Linked DNA regions of Homo sapiens. The protein of the gene in region 1 interacts with the protein of each later gene in a pairwise test. Each region holds a gene or a part of one and is shown on either strand. Other genes may lie near its edges.

Region 1 (7,038 bases):
TGATTTTTGAAAATCAGATTACATCTATAAAAGATGAAAAGCAAACACTTAAAACAATCTAACGGGGGAACATAAAATAATAAAAAATCAAATGCAGATGGGATTTCACAAAGAGGAGATTTGAATCTTTTGGTCTAAATCAGCCAATATTTTAACATTAACTATAAATTATTAAAATATAGTTTGCTTATGCCCATCCTTAAAATGCAGAATCTTTGAGGAAAAATATAGGCATATCAGGAATACAGACTCTTGTAAAAAATTTAAAAAGTCAGTATCATCTCTCTTGTGGAGCTACCAGAACAGGTTTTTCAAACAGAAAAGGGGAACAAACGTGGGGAACAAACGTGGGGCGCTTGGCTATGTTAAGAATTCTTATCACTAGAATACTGCTTCGAGACGTTCATAGTACTTTCCAAAAGAAGCCACCCACCTCAAAGAGCCCTGCGCAGCCCCAGTGACCCATGAGTGTGGTAGCCGTCATTTTATTAGCCACTGTTGGCAATCATCAAAGTATTCACTCAGAGTGGGGAAATTACTTAATATCAGCGATATTAACGATTTCCATGTATTTAGCTTTGTGACACACAATGCACAAGGGTCTTCAAATGTTTGTTTTTTACACCAGTGGTAGAAAATTGTCATTCTTCGGATTCAACACACTGGTGGATGACACTTTAGTGAAGTGTGACTACCTAGAAGAGCAGGAAGGCAGCTCCTGATTCTGACTGGGCCAGCCTCTTCCAGAAGGTGACTCTTCTGTCAGGAGATCACGACCCTGGCAGGCCGGGCAAGCGCTCTGCCCTTTAAGCCACTGCTTAAAGCACTGAAAAGGAGAAAACAAAATCAGAAGATGCCTTCAGGACCATGAGGAAGCTTAGCTCCCCTGTGCTGCTGGGCTCCTTGGCAGGCGTGGCTCACTTGCCCTTGGTCTCTTGGGCCTGGAGCTGCCCAATACTCAGGGACACCAACACCCGCTCAGGCCAGAGTGTGGACAAAGCCCCAGCCGCAAACGATCCCACCTCAGGGTCAGATCCTGAGCGCTCTGGGCCTCCAACCTGGCCTCAGGGGGTGGTCTTGCCCTGATCCCCGGTTCCAGGCTCGGCTCTTCCACTTCAGCTGCGCCAAATTCCAGAGCCTGGCATTCTCGGCCCTATGACCCAATCACTCATTCTTAGCCCATCCCTTGGCCTGGCCTTGGCCCTTGGCTCTGGAACAGCCCTCCAGCCTGCACGCCACACTCCTGCTGCTGCTGCCCACACTGCAGAGGCTGTGGACAGTCAGCTAGCCCAAATATAAGACCCTGTACCCAAGGAGGCACACCACACCAGAGACTTGGCAAGTGGTCTCAATTCCTTTCAGTGAGCATGCTGTATTTATCCCGTTCCAAGGGATTAGCAAATCCCCATGGCAGAGACCTGATCTGTTCTAACCCAGCAGCAGGGGTGCACACAAATGCTCACGGTACCTAGAACACCATGATAGTTCACACACAGATCCCAGAACGGTACGAGCAGGACTGTCCCTGGGTCAGGCAGAAGGGACTCAGCTAGGTTTAGTTTTTCTCCTCTAAAATGTTAAACTGACTTCATATACTACACTAAGTCAAAAAAATGGTTTCACTGTTTCTCCATTTAGTCAAGTGTGTAAGAAATCACCTTTCAAGGAACTAATACTGCTTTGAATCTCAGCACTAACGAGTGGCTGGAGCTGCTGTTCCCCTCTCCCCACAAGGGATGGAAAGGACGGTCTCCAGAGCTGCCCTTCCTGCAGAGCTGGTGTGAGGACAGGGAGGCACTGAACACTGACACGGGAGGTTTGCAAAGAAAATAGTTTGAAAGCACAATAAATACTGATGACTAGAAAACAATTCCTTTCTTATTTTGAAAATATTTGAAGGTCCCAATGCATGCTGTAAGGATGGCCAAAAAGAGCTCTTACCCCTTTGTGATACTTGTGCCCACATTTGAGCACACGCACGTTTTTTGATTTGAACACCTCGTGGCATATTTCACAGGAACTTGCACCCAGTGCCTGTGGAAACAAACACACCTGAATAGTAAAGAATAACTACAGTTGTTTTTATGACACGAGTTCTTCCTTCAAGTGGCCTTCAAACATCTTCTGCCACAAAGGGTGGCAAATTATTCACAATTACAGCTAAACAGTCTGAGGAAACAACTTATTTTTTAATAGCATTTCTTAAGAAAAAATATAAAAATACAAAAAGAAAAGTATAAAGTTCTAATTTCCTCAGAGAAAAAACTGTTTTATGTGACCAGAAGATCCCCAGGTGAAGATTACCATACCTAAAGTACAGTATGGGATAATCACATGGCATGGTGTGAATTAATCATACATTTAATCATCTAACAGTTGAGGGTAGTAAATTCCAACACATCCACACAATGGGCTATTGTGTAGCCAAAAGGAAAATCATGACGGAAGCCCATAATCCCTGACATAGAAAGCTGGCCCCAACAGCCTGCTGAATGAAAGCAGCTAACAAGACAACATGTATCATATATAACTCACTTTTTAATAAAGGGGCTGCATGTATACATACATGCCTAGAAAAACAGTTAACAGTGGTTGCCTCAGGGTAAGGGAGATTTAATCTTTTTCTTTACTATTTTCTAGTTTCTATGAGCATGGATTACTTGTGCAAATCAAAACAAAACAAACGGATGGCTCATCCGGCAAACATCCATGGGCAGGGTTGGTGTCGGGTGCTGGACGCAGAGATGAATGGAGGGCTCTGGCCTCAGCGGCTCACAGTCTGGTGAGCATAGACAGTGCTTTCGATGTGAGAGCAGACCTGAGTGTCGCCTGGGACTCCAGGCACAGTTCTCCCTGCAGCTCACAGCACTTACCCTTACTGCACCATTAACTTCTACTCTAGCTCACTGCCTCTTAACTCTGAGCGCCTTGAAGGCACAAAATGAGTCCCATCTGGGTCTTTAGCAGCTGGCAGAAAACCTAGCTCAAACTCATGCTCTAAAAACCCCTGCTGAGGGAGTGGGCGAATGCAGGCAGCCCTGGCAGTGGGATCAAGTTCAGGGAGTGGCACTGGAGGCATCACCCCAAGGCTGAGAAGACCTTGAACTGCTGTTCAGGGTTTTGCTGTCTCTCCCAAGGCATGACTCGGCCCAGGAGGAGATGGGGCAGATGCTGCAGAAGGAGGGTTCATGCCCCTCCACTGCTGCCCATGACTCGAGGGTCAGGGAAGAAGAGGAAGTGCCAGACCGGGGAAGAGCCATTGAAGGCCTCTCCAATGCCCAGTGCAAAGCTCGGAGCCAGGTTTAGTTTGAAAAAAATATACACTTAACTTGACCGTTTTCTATTTCCTAGAAAAGATGGGCACAGTATATTTCTAACTAAAAGAAAAAAAGGACAACCACAATAAAAAAAAAAATGGAAAACAACCAAAACATTCAGCCCCTCAGAGAACATACAAAGTGTGACTAGCGTATTCAGTTTTGACTAATTCACATATCCATGCATTCAAGAGTTTAGAAAAATATATACCAAAGTGGTAATACTGATTACAGGGCGGGTTTTTAAATGCCCTTTTTATTTGTATTTTCTATTGTATGTAATACTTTGTAATTTGAAAATTAATACTTTTAATTTTAACAAACTATGGTTATCAAATTAGGTCCCAGTTTGAACACATATTTTTCTTTCTCATACAATCTGGTGAAGTTTCAGTAAGTCAGCTTTTATATCTTCGTTACTACAAACATCCATCATGAAGCAAAAACAGAACCCTCTTCTCCAGGCAATCACGGTCTATCTTGGGGTGGGTGTGGCCACACGACACATTGACACATCTGTGTAATTCCAAAGCCATGGTTACACAGAAGAAAATTATTCAAAAATGATTTCCCCAACTGTTCAAAATACCACACTGGATGTACAAAGTTCATGTACTTGACCATCTGCAGCAAAACAAGGGCAAGAGAGAGAAGGCTCAGATCCCCCACGATGGTCAGAGCCCTTGTCACTCATGTGCAGGGGCTTCTCTCCATGCTGGGCCCAAACGTATCACAGCAGACACCATGACCTCGGCCATTCACTGATTGCTCTAACTGGACACATTCAAGTACATTGAAATTCAGTTTCTAATGTTGGGATCAAATAAATTAGGTCTAGAAATGAATGGGGCTAAATCATGGATTAAAAATTTTGTTTGCTTCTTGTTTTTCATTAAAAAACAAAACTATACAGTTATACATACAATCCTCACAGGGACATCTTCTGCTTTCTGCCCCTTGGTTTTGGGTGATGGTGCAACAACCACCGAGGGTGAGCCCTGGGAGGACCTGGTCACGGGGGTGGCAGAGCTGGGCTCATAAGTCCTCTTGTCCTTTCCTGGGTTTGGCTGCGAAAATAACAGGGGTGGCGGGGAGGGGACAAGAGGGAAGCAACCAGTTATCCAACAACTTGACCATCTTCTGTCTTTAGTACATTGCTCTCTAGGTTTTGGTTTGAAGCTTTTTTTTTTTTTTAACAATTCTCATATTTTATAAATAAATAAGGATAAACTGGAACATCTAGATAAAATACCTTTTTCTTTTTCTGTTCATCTAGAATGTGTTCTGTCACTCTTTGGACAATTTCATCAATACTCAATCCTGAGAGTGAGTTCTTGTTTTTGCTTCGCACTTTTTTAATAAAACCAGCAAGCTCAGTGCTGAAAGGGAGAGTGAGTGATGAATGACAACAGAAAGTTCTCTACTGCTAAGAAATATTACATGCCAATATTAATCCAACAGCCCAACCCAAAGAAACAAAGACAAATGCACATAAAATTAATCTGAAGACCACTGATAACAACAATAACTATCTAAAAAGCATAACTTTTTTTTTTTTTTTGAGACAGTGTCTCACTCTGTTGCCCAGGCTGGAGGGCAGTGGCGCGATCCCTGCTCACTGCAACCTCTGCCTCTCAGGTTCAAGCGAGTTTTGCCATTTTTTTTTAAGAAGAGATGGGGTTTCACCATGTTGGTCAGGCTGGTCCCGAACTCCTGACCTCAGGTGATCCACCTGCCTCGGCCTGGCGTGAGCCACCATGCCTGCTGGCTAATCATATTTTAACTGCCCCATTGTTTACAAATTTCAATTTTGAAGCCTGTAATTAACACTGTCTCAGAAACTGAAATAATAGGGCACATGCCAAAGGTCATTCCTGAGCATAGAGTCCTTTGATCCGAGCTGCACTTCAGAGACACCGCCTCTACCTCATCATCTTTCACAGCTGAGACAAGAGGCAACTCTGTCCCCCTCGTAACAACCTGAACAGCGGAAACCAGAGGTGGAGGCAGAAACGCTACTGAAGAGCCTGCCATCATCCCAACTCTATTTACAGCTCTTGCTCACTCAGGTAAGGGCAGCTTTTTCCCACATTCACAAGGACCCCTTGTTAACATGTCCACATGCCCCATTCACTATGGAATTCCATCCAGTCTTCAACCTCACACTCTAACAAATCAGAGGTCTTATATAACAAGGTTTAAGTTGCTGCTGCCTTCTTTGCTATATATAATTTTGTCCCCCCAAATGATGCAAAATTATTGTTTTGCGTTCATTTATTGATACTATAACACTAGTTTTAGACAGTGCTATTGGTCTCATCAAAATCTTAGCAAATTGTCATGGGTTCTGATGAATATTACCCAGTGCTCAATGTTTTCAATTTACATATGCACATTAAAAAATTTATTTGAGGCTGGGTGTGGCGTCTCATGCCTGTAACCCCAGCACTTTGGGAGGCCAAGGCGGGTGAATCACTTGAGGTCAGAAGTTCGAGACCAGCCTGGCCAACATGGTGAAACCCCACCTGTACTAAAAATACAAAAATTAGCCAGGCTTAGTCATGCATGCCTATAATCCCAGCTTCTCAGGAGGCTGAGGCAGGAGAATCGCTTGAACTCGGGAGGGAGAGGTTGCAGGGAGCCGAGACTGTGCCACAGCACTCCAGCCTAGGCAACAGAGTGAGACTCTGTCTCAAAAAAAAAAAAAAAAAGAAAGAAAAAACCCACCAATTTATTTGAAAATACTTATCTCTATATTTACAAAAAGAAAGAAATGTAGCAACTGTCTTTCTGAGCAAAACAATTATGCAACCCTTTTCATGTTAACACCTAACTAGCCATGATTTTATCTAATCAGGAAACCTCAGTTCGATAAAGTATTAAACACAGTCACAGACATTTTCTGTTCATACCTGTTGTAACATGGGAATACCACTGACAGGTGCTCAATAATACTATTGAACGGCTTTTTTGGAGACTGGCTTGAACGCGCAGCACGTCCTGGAGGAACAGGCTGCTTCCGATCAGCCACAGGGCTTCGTTCTGACAGAGCTGCCTGGCCAGCCCGTTTTGGCCCTGTCAGCTGAGTGGCTTCAGGCTGACCAGGGGGTGGCCCTGGCAACAGCGCAGAAGGAGCCTCCCCTGGGGAATCACCAGCAGAGAACACACTAGGATCCCTGTGAAGTGCTGCGTGGTTTCCAGTCACGTCGCTTGCAGAAGTCACAAGCCCTTGGCCATCGTCGCCTGAAGACTCAGGGAGTAACTCGGGATGAACCTGTGAGGAACACACCACACCATGGATCACTTAGGGCTTCCCTTGAAGGATGAAACGCCCAAGGACAAAGGCCGATGAATAAATACAGTAACGCAGCGCAGAGGCTCCGTGCACAGGAAACCTGAATACCATGAATTAAATATTTTCGTTTTAAAAGAATTCTTGACAATAACTTGTTAGTTATTAGAACAAGAGTAGGAGGGCTCAGACTTCTAAATAATTATCTCTATAAGTCACTATTTTCTCTGTAAGATGAGACCATTTTGCCTGCCTACTGGCCCTCCTTCAGCCTCTACCTGGTTACACTTTTCCCCTTCTGAGCTAAACCATGTAGCTGACAGATGGAACATCATGGCCACCACACTCCCCAGAGCTGTCTCCATCCCAGGGGGCCGCCTCCTCTTCCCTGCCAGCTCTCCTGGCAGCTCTCAGGCCTCCGTCCACGCC
Region 2 (7,038 bases), on another chromosome or scaffold:
TGAAAAGTCAGCAGGAATGTCACAATGTAAGGACCAGGCTGCTAGGGACAAGACACCTGTGACGTCCCTGCAAGGGAGACAAACAGACATCACGAGAGCCCCGAGGTGCCACCACAGGCTGTGGGAAGTCCCACCTAGAAAGCATTCTTGCCCAAAGAAGGAAAAACAGTGCTTCTTGGTGTGGTCCCCACACAGCACCTCAGCACCGCCTGGGAACTGGCAGCAATGCAAATTCCTGGGACCTACCCCCAGGCCCACTGAGTCAGAAACTCGGGGTGGGCCCAGCACTGTCTCACAAGCCCTTTGGGTGACTCTAATTCAGGTTCTAATTTGGTACCTGACTGTACAGCAGAACCACCAGGAGTGGTTCCAAAAATCTGGAGCCACCTGCAGCAACGTGAACACAGGCTCTCTCTGGGGCAAGTTTATCCCCAGGGGACACCTGAGAATGTCTGAAGTCTTTTTTTTTTTTTTCCCTTTTTTTTTTTAGCTGGGGGTCTGGCTCTGTCGCCCAGGCTGGAGTGCAGTGGTGTGAACATGGGTCACTACAGCCTCAACCTCTGAGGCTCCACTGATCCTCCCACTTCAGCCTCCTGAGCAGCTGGGACTACAGGTGCACGCCACTATGCCCAGCTAATTTATTTTTATTTTTACAGAGACAGGGTCTTGCTTTGTTGCCCAGGCTGGTCTCGAACTCCTGGGCTCAAGCGATCCTCCCACCTCAGCCTTCTAAAGTGCTGGAATTACAGGCGTGAGCTGTGGCGCCCAACCCAAAAGTCATTTTTGATTGTCACAACTTGGGGAGCTAGTATTGGCTTCAGTGGGTAGAAGCCAGGGGTGCTGCTGAAACCCTAGAATGCACAGGGCTGCCCCGACAGCGCAGAATCATCTGTCCCAAAACGTTAACAGTGCTGAGGCTGAGGAAGGCTGCCTTAGGCCCAATCGTCACATCAGGAATGAACAGCTAATTTGGTTGGCTCTGATGGCAGCACCACATGATTATATTCTTTACAGTCTTCATCTGTCAGGACACATGTTCAAGTATGGATGAGTGAAGTGACGTGTTGTCTAGGACAGGCCTTAAAGTATTCCAGAACAAGAGGGACAGGCAGAGCTAAGGAAACAAGGCTGGCTAAACGCTGATAACTGGTTAAACTGGACAATGGCTACATGGGGGTCCGTAATATTTATTTTCTTTTTAAATTTTTGAATGTCTTTGGAATCTTCCACTACAAAAAATTCAAATAAGGGAAAAAGTAGAATTCCACTCCTGGCCCGGCCTCCACCTGGGATACCCTGAGCAAAGCCCGGGACTCCCCAACAGCGACGTCCTCCCCAACAGGCCCCAGCCTCCCTTGACAGTACCTGCTGGGTGGGGCCCCGAGGCTCTCTCTCTCCACAGGCACCCCCAGCCCCTAACATAGGGTGGAGGTGGGGACTCAGCAGCAAGGCCTGCTGCTCCTCTCTGGGCCTCAGGCTCCCCCTTTTCTGACTAGGGGGAATTTGTGGGGGAAATAAGCCCACAGCAGCAGAAAGCGCGGGTAAGCGTCCAGGCCTCAGGGTCAGGCTCCAGACCGCAGCCCCCACAGAGGCTCGCGAGCGCAATTCCCGGGGCACGCACCTTGGCAATGATGACTTCCTTCCGCAGGATCTTCATGGCGTAGTAGCGGCCAGTGGCCTTCTCCCGCACCAGGATGACTTTGCCAAAGGTTCCCTTGCCAAGGAGTTTGAGATAGTCGAAGTCATTCATGGTCTGCCAGGGACAGGGAGAGTGGGGGCAGTCAGCGCCTGGCTCATGGCCCGTGGGAGGAAATTTTAACAAAAGAAAGAGGAAAACCAAAAGACACTGTTGCCAAACGGCTTAGGCTGGAGCAGGAAGGGAGGCTCTGGGCAGCAACTGTGTGTTCTGAAGCGGCCTTCAGACCAGGCTCTGCAGGCACAGGGCCTTGGGAGGGCTGGGCTCTGACGTGGGGGTAGCCAGGTCTTCACCAACTCCCAGGACGAACCTGCAGTGGGTCCACCCAAGGTTGCTCCCTCCCCTACGGGCATGGAGCACACCCTAGGGCACCTGCCACCTGAAATCACCCCACCCTGCAGGGCAGCCTTGTCTCTCAGCTGAGCCCCCTGAACTGTGTTATGGAAACCAAGGAGAGCAGGCCAGCACTGGGGGTGGGGGCACCGCAGGCTGGCAGCCCCACCCCTGCTCCCAGCACTTACCACTTTAGCCCGTGCCTTGCTGACCGCCACTTCCATCTCCTCAGTCGTGGAGGAGTCACTGGGGGAGCCACACTTGTAGTCCATGGGGTCCTCGCCTGGGGCCCGCTGCTTGAGGCTGTTGGCGACCATCTGGATGGCCCGCATCCACTCCTCCCTGTGCAGGGACACACGTGAGTCCCAGCAGCCAGGAGTCCTGGGCCTCAGAGTCGAACAGCTGAGTGCCACCTCCCAGCCACCCCCAGCAACAGGCAAGCAAATGACCACATAACCATGGGAATTTGGGCAAGATCTGTCAGAACCAGAGAGAGCTGAAGGGACCTGAGTGAAATTCCACGCCAGGCGCAGTGGCTCATGCCTATAATCCCAGCACTTTGGGAGGCTGAGGCGGATGGATCACAAGGTCAGGAGTTCGAGACCAGCCTGGCCAACATGGTGAAACCCCGTCTCTACTAAAAATACAAAAATTAGTCAGGGGTGGCATTCGCCTAATCCCAGCTACTCAGGAGGCTGAGGCAGGAGAATTGCTTGAACCCGGGAGGCGGAGGGTGCAGTGAGCAGAGATCGCACCACTGCACTCCAGCCTGGTGACAGTGCGAGACTCCGTCTCAAAAAAAAAAAAAAAGTGGAATACCAAGAGCGATCACCAATTTCCCTAAAGTGACCTGGCCTGAGGGCCATTTGAAGCCAGGCAGCAGGGAAATGATCAAAAAGGAGTGACCCTCTCTTTTCACAGCCCCTTGAAAATGAGCCACCACCCTGAGCCTTGAATGAGGGAGAGAGAGTGCTCCTGTGAATTCTTCGGAACAAATGACAAGCTCAAGTTTATAAGTTACCAATGTTTTGTAAAGTTAAACCAAGAGTAAGAAGCAGCATTCATTAGCCAAAGGAGCTGAAGACACTGCAAGGCAAGAGCTGGCCCGCAGGACTCCCTGGAGGGGACAGTCCACTGGGAGCAGGGAGTCTGCATGGCAGGGACAGAGGTCCTGGCAGCCCAGGGATGTAGAGGAGAGAAGCTGGTGGACAAGAAGTAGGTCCCAGCAGAAGGGAGCCTGGTTTAAGAACAGTTAACTAGAGGCTAAGCACTGTGGCTCACACCTGTAATCCCAGCATTTTGGGAGGCCAAGGTGGACCAAGTGCTTGAGCCGAAGCGTTCAAGACCAGCCTAGGTAACAAAGCAAGACCCATCTCTTAAAAAGTTTTTAAAAAACAAAAATAAAAAATAAAAACAGGCCAGGTGCGATGGCTCACGCCTGTAATCCCAGCACTTTGGGAGGCCAAGGTGGAGGATCACTTGAGGTCAGGAGTTCGAGACCAGCCTGGCCAACATAGTAAAACCCAGTCTCTACTAAAAATACAAAAAATTAGCCGGGCGTGGTGACGGGCGCCTGTAATCCCAGCTACTCGGGAGGCTGAGGCAAGAGGATCATTTGAACCCGGGAGGCGGAGGTTGCAGTGAGCCGAGATCGCGCCACTGCACTCCAGCCTGGACAACAGTGCGAGACTCCATCCCAAAATAATAATAAAATAATAATAATAATAATAATAATAATAATAATAATAAAATAAAGAACAATAAACTAGTTCTGTCACTCATGGTTTAGAACTTGCTGAGAAAGAACTGTCTTTGAGCTGGGCTCGGTGGCTCACACCTGCAATCCTGGCACTTTGGGAGACTGAGACGGGACGATGGCTTGCATCCGGAAGTTTGAGACCAGCCTAGGCAACATGGATACCCACTTTGTAGAGACCAAAGATAAAAAATTAGCCAGGTGTGGGGGCACATGCCTGTGGTCTCAGCTACTCAGGGGGCTAAGGTGGGAGAACTGCTTGAGCCCAGGAGGTGGAGGCTGCAGTGAGCCATGATCATACCACTGCAATCAGCTAAAAAAAAAACAAAATAATTTTCTTTGGATACTTACAAACTGTTCTGTCTAATAAGTGAAAATGACCAGAGACCAAAATGAAAAATATATTAGGCTGAATTACACCAAATTGTCCACATCCCCCATTTTTGACCACACTGCAATTAGGTGTTTCAACCCAACGCATTTTGAACCCCCCGTGTATTTTGCTTGTATCTAGAAAATACTCATATGACCAACAAGAAAAATAAAATGTTCACTAAGAATGAGAAAATTCAGAGAGTGTAATCACGCAAATCCCAGTGATTTAAATAAGCCACAGGGAGTGCAGCCAGCCCTTCACAGCATCTTCCAGGATGGCCCCCGCCCCAGGGCAAGTGTCACTGCTCCTGTGTTCCTGAGACACTGGGGCCCCTACCCAAGGTCAGGCAGGGAACAAGTGTGGCTGGGACTGGGCTTCAAAATCCAAGCCGGGACACCCTGCTGGGCTGTATTCCTCCCCAGTCTCGTTTCCTGGTGTACCACGCGAAACTACTTCTATTTCCATCCATCCCACAACGCACCCTCTTCCACATTTTGACACTGCTGGAATGCAGATTAATCTCACAGTTGGGGTCTGTCTTGATTTAACTGGGCACGCCTTTTTCTTGGCACTATATGAAACAGGGTGCCTCCCCAATGACAGCGCCTTCGATTTGATGAAATATCACAGCAGTGTTTAATACACAGGCTGTCGTGAGGTAGAATGCCTGTGAGGCATCTGTGCAATGAGACATTCTGCAGCTGGGGGAAAGATTGAGGCAGGTCTGTATGCTGACTTGGGATGATCTGAGACTTCTTAAGAGAAAAAGGAAGGTGCAGGGATGGGCAAGGTAGCTCACTCATGTAATCCCTGCAATTTAGGAGGCAGAGGCTGGAGGACTGCTTGAGCCCAGGAATTCCAGACCAGCCTAGACAACATAAGAAGACCACGCCTTTATAAAAAATTTCAAAATTAAGGAAGGTGAAGAACAGTATACAGTTCTGTGCTCCTAAGTTAGAAAATAATGAACTTCTGCAGACACATGCTCACATAGGCACAAACATCTCCAGAAGAGAAGTCATGATCCTGGAGCCCTGCCTGCCTCCAAGGGAGGGGAACTGGGAGTCGAAGGAAAGGAACAGCCTCTAATAACAAATGGGAAGCACTTGCTATCATCAACTATCCCTACTCCCACCCATTATGAAGGAGGAACTGGGGCACAGATTGAAAAAACAGATTCCAGAAAAACAGCAGTTGCTCCAGGCTTGGTAGCTGGAATTACAAAAGGCACGCTGCCCTCCCCACCCACTCAGAGACTGGAGTCCCCATAACCCATCTATGTCCACCCCACGGAGGCAGAGATTTCCACCTGCTTTGAACACAGTTCTGCCCCCAGAACTCATGGTGGATACTCAGTAGATACTTGGGTAATGAAAGAGTGAGGCAGCCAAAGTCCAAGTGGCCCCAGGGCCAGGGCGCAGCAGGGCCCAGTGCAGACCCGGGCAGAGCACGCACTGAGCCCTGGTGCACACCCGGGCAGAGCGGTGTTGGCTTCTGCACTCCCTGGCCCAACATCTCAAGCCAGTATTTCTCAACTTGCTTTAACCCATGCCCCCTTAGGAACAAATTACAGCCTAATTCCCAAACCCTACACTAATATTCCTGTTTTTCAAAAAAAAAAAAAAAAAAAAGCAGGGGCCGGGGACAGGGCAGGAGCCCATTCCATGACAGGCTTTTTTCTTTTTTGTTTCTTTTTGTTTTTGGAGACAGAGTCTCGCTTTGCTGCCAGGCTGGAGTGCAGTGGCTCCCAGGTTTAAGCGATTCTCCTGCCTCAGCCTCCAGAGTAGCTGGAACTACAGGCACCCGCCACCATAATTTTTGTATTTTTAGTAGAGACAGGGTTTCACCATGTTGGCCAGGATGGTCTCGATCTCTTGACCTCATGATCTGCCTGCCTCGGTCTCCCCAAGTGCTGGGATTACAGGTGTGAGCTGCTGTGCCCAGCCTTCCATGACATGCTTTATCAGACATAGTTGTCCTCTCACAAATTTTAAATTTTTTTAATGCTGACTCTGAGTAAATGATGGCGGATTGGGAAAAAAAAAATCACAGATCTCCTAAGAGATACAGTGAAGATATTAAAAAGGAAAATATGTCTCTCATATATAAAGATCTTGAGAGACTGTCACGTGAAGATGGCAGATTGCAGACTAAGATGTACAGCGTGGTATCATCTTTGTTTTCAAAGACAGGGGTGGAGAGAACACAGATGGTCCCTCTGTGGAGAGAACCCAAATACATGAAGGATGGCACTGCCACACCACCAGCCCAGAAGCAGCTCTGGGAGGCTACTCCAGATGGGAATCAGGAGCACAGGCCCTGGACCCACCCCAGCTGGGGCTCCAAGAGTGGCTCTGCCACCTGGACCAGCTCAGCCCTCCCAGCTCTCCCCTCCACCAGGGCCTGGGCCTGGGGCTAAGAGGTTGGCGGGCTGTCGGCGCAGAGCACCGCGCGCAGGGCGGGGTGGAAGGGAGGGTGCCGAAGACACTCGCAGGGGCGGGCCTACCCCACCTACCCTGGCTCCCACTGCCCACCCTACAGAAAGCTCCAGAAACCACAGCAATGCAGGAGGTTATCTGGGAGTAACTGGGGCTCGCCTGCTGCCTGACTAGCTTCCGATCCAATTCTAACTGGACCAAAGTTGCAAGGTTGCAGCACTCAGAATTCCAGATGAAAAGCAAGGGCCTCTGTCCAGGATCCTTCTCAAGGGTTTGCAACATGGCGTCTGGGGCAAAGGGGAGCTCCCCATGAAGCTGGGCCTCAAGTATCTTCTAGCCCCCAGAGGAGAGCCCCTGGGTAAACCACGACTGTAAAAATAACAGCACTGAGTGGCTAGCTCCAGACACCACCTCGCTTGATTCTCAAGAGCACTGCAAT

What was found. Proteins that work in one complex are often made in the same cells at the same time.
Region 2: the proteins of TTC3 (region 1) and AKT2 interact in binary tests that used the Homo sapiens proteins (3 or more experiments, as listed by UniProt).

Annotation. Positions count from the first base shown.
Region 1 is NC_000021.9:37,195,228-37,202,265, reverse strand, and holds part of TTC3 (E3 ubiquitin-protein ligase TTC3), read right to left. Parts: intron 6,592-7,038; coding exon 6,230-6,591; intron 4,697-6,229; coding exon 4,570-4,696; intron 4,385-4,569; coding exon 4,241-4,384; intron 2,035-4,240; coding exon 1,942-2,034; intron 827-1,941; coding exon 692-826; 3' UTR 1-691. UniProt on the Homo sapiens protein: E3 ubiquitin-protein ligase which catalyzes the formation of 'Lys-48'-polyubiquitin chains. Mediates the ubiquitination and subsequent degradation of phosphorylated Akt (AKT1, AKT2 and AKT3) in the nucleus.
Region 2 is NC_000019.10:40,240,317-40,247,354, forward strand, and holds part of AKT2 (RAC-beta serine/threonine-protein kinase), read right to left. Parts: intron 2,372-7,038; coding exon 2,218-2,371; intron 1,754-2,217; coding exon 1,622-1,753; intron 1-1,621. UniProt on the Homo sapiens protein: Serine/threonine kinase closely related to AKT1 and AKT3. All 3 enzymes, AKT1, AKT2 and AKT3, are collectively known as AKT kinase.